Linked DNA regions of Homo sapiens: region 1 is linked to region 2. Evidence: fine-mapped expression QTL. Tissue or cell type: esophagus muscle. Region 2 holds a variant in brackets; the other region holds the start of a gene. All regions are shown on one strand. Distances are from middle to middle.

Region 1 (2,914 bases), 100 kb before region 2:
CCACAAACTCAACCAGGATCTTGGCTGGCAGTTCTGCCTCCTCCTGCAGGCCTACAGGTTCCAAGATGCCTGCCACCTCAGCCAGGACCCTGGAGGGGCAAGGAAACACAGGAAATTGCAGTTTCTTGTGGTGCTAGTTCTACAGTTCGTGTGTGTACACAAACAAATGTGGATGTGTATATCAGTATATATAGTATTGAGAGTCTTGCCTTGACCAGAGTTTACACAAGGGCCTGAAGGGTCCACAGCCTGCAACCAGGAATGGCGTGCATGGAGGGCACACGGTGGTAATACGTGCCAAAAGGAAAATCAGCAGGGCTAGTGGATAAGGAGTTTGAGAAAAGAGCTGAAATTTTAAATAGGGAGTGTCTCACTGAAGAGAAATCATTTGAGTCAAGATGTGAAGGAAGCCAGGGAGATATGCAAGGAAGGGGAAGAATGCTGGGCCTTGGGATCCCTCCTGGCGCTGAGCACCAGCCTTGGGGCAGAGTCTTGGAATAGCTGAGAAAGGACTCAGGGCAGAGGGCTGGATGCCTCGGTCTACTCTAGGGTTTTTCATTATTAGGGACTGGAGCAATCTACGAAGGGGCAGGGATGGGGATGAGAAGTGACTGGGAATGTGTCGTGTTGGGACAAGAAGACAGAAGTGAAACCGTCTCCTAGAGCACATCCTGTGGATTATGTGGATGTGGGGAGCGGCGAACGGTCCCCCAAAGGCTGTACTCCTGGAGCAGGCAACAGACACCTCAGGAACCTAAGACGGGACTGCGGTGAGGATCACTTCACGGCAGGGTCGAACCTCAACAGCTGTACAGGGTCGAGGGCACCAATCATTACACATAGGGGCCCACAAGGTCCTCCCAGGCCCGGCCCCAGCTGCCACTTAGCCGCAAACACTTACTCTAGGGCTGCAGCTTCCGCCTCTGTCTCCGCTGCCTCCATCTTTCCAGGCGCCGAGTTCAGCTGCCTTCCCACAATCCCTAAGATTACTTTGAAGTCACAGTCGACTTCGCGCCGGGGCAGGCGATTGGCTGCAGAGGTTAGTGGGCGGGCATCAAGGACCATTGTGCGCTCTAATTGGCAGGCGCGGATTCGCTCGTTGGCGGGCCTCGCTGCTTGGCGCAAGCGCGGTTATGGCTAGGCGCGCACGGGCTCTGCGCCTGCGCGCTAGTCCTTACGCGGTGCCAGAGACTATAAGTGGGCTTGAGCTCGACCGCGCGCCTGTGGAAGTTCTTTCTCTACTCGAAAAAGGGAAAGCATTTCCTTGAGTTTGCGTTTTAAGGGAAACTTACAGCATTGACACTTTATTTAAAATATTCACTACTGCTGTAGAAAAAAAAAAACAAAACCCCGAAAAACAGTGGGGCTGTTTCTAAGACGCTGGGAATCAGTAAAGAATAGTGATCCGGGAGATACAGGAAGCAAATGATCTGCGCTCAAAAAGCGAGCTGCTTTCAAAGATATTAGTATTTTATAGATGCGATGCAGGAGAGTGAACTCAAGCAGAGCCCAGCCGATTGCCTGCGTTGGCAAAATAGAACAGATATTCTGGGGAGACCAAGGTAGGTAATGTTCTTTGCAGAGTACAGGAGAAAGATAACTGCTGAGAGAGAACTTGGTATTCATTCAGCTGAGTACTGAGCAGTATGTGTCTCAAGAAACTAGCTAAAAGATTTTTAAAGATACCAGGACATGGCCGGTCGCGGTGGCTCACGTCTGTAATCCCAGCACTTTGTGAGTCTGAGGCAGGTGAATTACGAGGTCAGGAGTTTGAGACCAGCCTGGCCAACATGGTGAAACCCCCGTCTCTACTAAAAGTACAAAAAAAATTAGTTGGGCGTGGTGGTGGGCGCTTGTAATCCCAGCTATTCGGGAGGCTGAGGCAGGAGAATTGCTTGAACCAGGGAGGCTGAGGTTGCAGTTAGCCGAAATTGCGCCACAGCACTACAGCCCTGGTGACAGTGCGAGACTCCGTCTCACAAAAAAAAAAAAATACATATATATATATATATAAATATATATATATGGACATTACAGAGGGTCAGAAATAGTCTCTATTTCCACTAACCAGGCTGGAAAACTTCATAGTCCGTAGGACACTGGACAGAGTACACACAAAAAAGTCTTGATTTGATAGTTGTTTACTAATTATTTAGTAGGCAGTAATTAGTCCTAGCTGATCAGTGCTGTAGTGCCATCTAACTCTTAAAAGTAAGACCCAAATGGATCAAACTTAACAAACCATGACAGATGACAAGACCAAACTTCAGCAGTATTTATAGAAATAGAAAAATGTTCACCAAAGGTGCAATTTACATATGTCATACAAAGAAAAATTACCAAGCTTGCAAAAAGAAAAAAAAAAACACATAATGAGGAGAAAAATCAATTGCTGATCAGAACTGAAGTAATGTTAGAATCAACAGGCAAGGACATTAAAACAGTTATTGTAACTATATCCCATATCTTCAAAAAGATATCAGAACTATAATGAAAAAGGTAAGTGGTGCTAAGGATGTAAAGAAAGTGGAATTCTCATGTTGATGGAAATGTAAACTGGTGCATAGGCTTTGAACGTAGGGTTACCATATGAGTCACAATTTCATTCCTAGTTATATATCCAAGACAAATAAAAACATGGGGACACAAAAGTACACAAACCTCTATAGCAGCATTATTCACAAAAGCTGAAAGGTAAAAACAACCCAAAGGCCCATTAGCTGGTGAGTGAAAATGCATACTTTCATTCAATGAAGTATTAATCAGTAGTAAAGAGAACTTTATTACATGCTAAATAATGGTTACTACATGCTAAAATATGAACCTTGAAAATATACTAAGTGAAAGAAGCTAATTACAAAAGACCACATAATATATTATTTCATTTATGTGAAATGTCTAGATTTGACAAATC
Region 2 (2,924 bases):
TTATTATTTTGAGATGGAATATCACTCTGTCACCAAGGCTGGAGTGCAATGGCAAGATCTCAGCTCACTGCAGTCTCTGCCTCCTGAGTTCAAGTGATTCTCATGTCTCAGCCTCCTGAGTAGCTGGGATTACAAATGAGCACCAACACGCCTAGCTAATTTTGAATTTTTAGCAGAGATGGGGTTTTACCATATTGGCCAGACTGGTCTCGAACTCCTGGCCTCAAGTGATCTGCCCACCTCAGCCTCCCAAAGTGCGGAGATTACAGGTGTGAGCCACTGCGCCCAACCACTATCTTATTATTTTGATACATTGGTACAGCCCATTTACATTAATTATTATTATAGGCATGTTATATCCTAGTTATGCTTGAATATTTTATGTTGTAGTTTTAAGTATTTTTTTCACTTAAGTATGCTATTACATTTTATCTATTTCATGGCATTTTTTGTTTTTAAAAATAATATAATTTCCATTTTTGTTCTACTGGTTAGTTTGTAACTATAATTTGAATCTTTTATCTTCCTAATACTCTCTATATTAGAAAGTAGCTCTCTATACTTATATCTTTTCTTTTTGTTAAATAATTGGTTCTTTGAAAAACTTGCTACTATAAATTATTTAGGATTTATTTTGACAAATTATTTCCAACTTAATAATATTAATTTAAAAATAATCATATGTAATTGAGGTAGTTGGTCTATAATACCCATAGCTGCATTATGTGTTACTGGTAATATCCATTTTACAGTCTTATAAATTGCATTAATTTGGATTTGTCAAGTTATTAATGAGGTAATTTTTTCCTACACTTTAAGAGTAAAATGTGGTATTAACTCAGAAGTAACACAAAAGTGGGGTTATAGCCTGGCTTGGTAATATACTACCTCTGTGACCTTGAATTTGTCACTCTAGTCACAAACTTCAATATTAGATGTGTTGAAAATAGTATCATCTACTTTATAGGTTTGTTAAAATTATAAAATAATGCTGGTAAGTGATATGCATAGCTATGCATATGGTATATATTTTGTTCTCAGAGGATGAGTTATTATTTTAATAACTTTTCTACTATTTTTACACTATTACCTTTATTACTGTTATTATTTATGTCATTCACTATTTGTCTTTCTTGTCTGGAGAAGTATTATGCTCCTTATTCTGTCAGGCTATCATATTGGAATTCTTTTTATTGATTACTACAATTTATTATCAGATTATCAAAATGTTTATATTTACAATACACACTTGTTTCTCCTCCCTTTTAATTTCATTTGGCTGTTGTCTGAACCACATGTTAAAATTGTATAAAAGCGATTAGACTAATGTTTACATTTTTCTTTTTTATTATCTTAAGATCACATGCATATTTATAAAATCCCATCATTTAAACAGCACGTAAAAATCTCCCACTCCATACACAAAAATGTGTTTCACTGGGTATATGTTCTCCGAGATAAAGAGGCAGAGGCCAGACGCGGCACGCCTGTAATCTCAGCACTTTGGGAGGCCGTGACAGGCAGATCACTTGAGGTCAGGAGTTTGAGACCAGCCTGACCAACATGG[C/T]GAAACCCGGTCTCTACTAAAAATACAAAAATTAGCCGGGCATGGTGGCAGGTGACTGTAATCCCAGCTACTCGGGAGGCTGAGGCAGGAGAATTGCTTGAAACTAGGAGGCGGAGGTTGCAGTGAGCGAAGATCACACCACTGCACTCCAGCCTGGACGACAAGTTAGACTTCATCTAAAAAAAAAAAAAAAGAAAAAGAAAAAGAAGACTGTTTGAGCCTTCTTTACAGTAAGGTGGCTCTGTGACTATGTTGTAACAAATGGAATATGTTTAGAAATTATATATCAATATACAAATTATATGCACTTAAGAAAAAGAGTATGTTGTTACTTTTCATTAATCACTGCCTTTTGGCTGAAAGGCAGATTTGAAGGTGGGAGCCTTATTGGGCCACAAAATAAAACTACATATTGAGAATGGGAGAGCAACAAAATAGGAACCCACATCTCTGATGGCCATTGAGCTGACTTCTCCTACATTTTACATATAAAAATAAATATTTATCATATTTAACTACTCATTTGGGGACTCTTTAAACAGAAACTACCACAGTCTAATGTAAGAATAGCTATACCTATTTAGGTGTTAAAGTGTTCATACAGGATTGTAAGGAATTATCTGCAGATAATTTTCTGCTAGCATAAGTTTAGGGGCCTAGGAGTTGATTTAGAAATGAAATCATAGAATTTAGGGATAAGGATTTGTTTTATTTATAAATAAAATCCCCTCAAGTCTTAGTAGGCTTCTTCTAGTTATTTTGCTTTAATCATTTCTGTGTTCAGGAACCCAAGCCAAACATCTCCTTTAGACATAGTTTAGACACTGGAAGTTCATCCTATTTTATTTGTTGTCTATTCTACTTTTTCCCTCAACTTAACAGACGTTAGCTCAAGGCCGTCTGAAAAAAAGAAGAAAGGTTGGAGTGGGAAGACACACATTTTTCCAAAGCCGATCTCCTGGCTATGATTAGAACTGTACTTCCTGCAAGCTCTCTTTCTATCTCTACATTATTATAGCCTCTCAAGAATTTATCAATTCTGCAAACACATTAATTTTTGTGTGTGTCGTGTTCTGTGTCATCCAATATGTCTAGAATTTCTTTTATTATACTTCAGATTGTCATTTTATAATTAGCTAGCATGTCACCTCTTGAGAAGCCTGGTCTGAGTCCTCCAGGAGTATTAGGAGATGTTAACATACCATGTAAGAAAGTGAACTTTAGGGACAAGCAGCCTGAATTTTAATTCCAGTTCTGGCACATGCATGACCAGGCTATAATCTTTGTATCTTACTTTCTTCTCTTACAAAATAAGGTTGAATCTAATATTACCTATAGAAGAAGGCTGAATTAAATG

The links.
Region 1: ZWINT starts here. The variant in region 2 is fine-mapped to the expression of ZWINT in esophagus muscle (GTEx, PIP 0.97).

What each region holds. Positions count from the first base shown.
Region 1 is chr10:56,360,295-56,363,208 of GRCh38, forward strand. It overlaps ZWINT (ZW10 interacting kinetochore protein), which reads right to left and starts at 965. Exons shown (of 9, transcript NM_007057.4): 1 at 902-965; 2 at 1-89. The coding sequence starts at 942. LOC124902546 (a long non-coding RNA gene) reads left to right here and starts at 1,165. Exons shown (of 2, transcript XR_007062372.1): 1 at 1,165-1,562. RefSeq lists enhancers at 1-49, 675-1,414, 763-932 and a silencer at 1,023-1,232.
Region 2 is chr10:56,461,175-56,464,098 of GRCh38, forward strand. No RefSeq gene overlaps it. Among named protein-coding and RNA genes, the nearest start is that of ZWINT, 100 kb to the left of the region's middle. The variant C/T (reference allele first, on the strand shown) is at 1,568.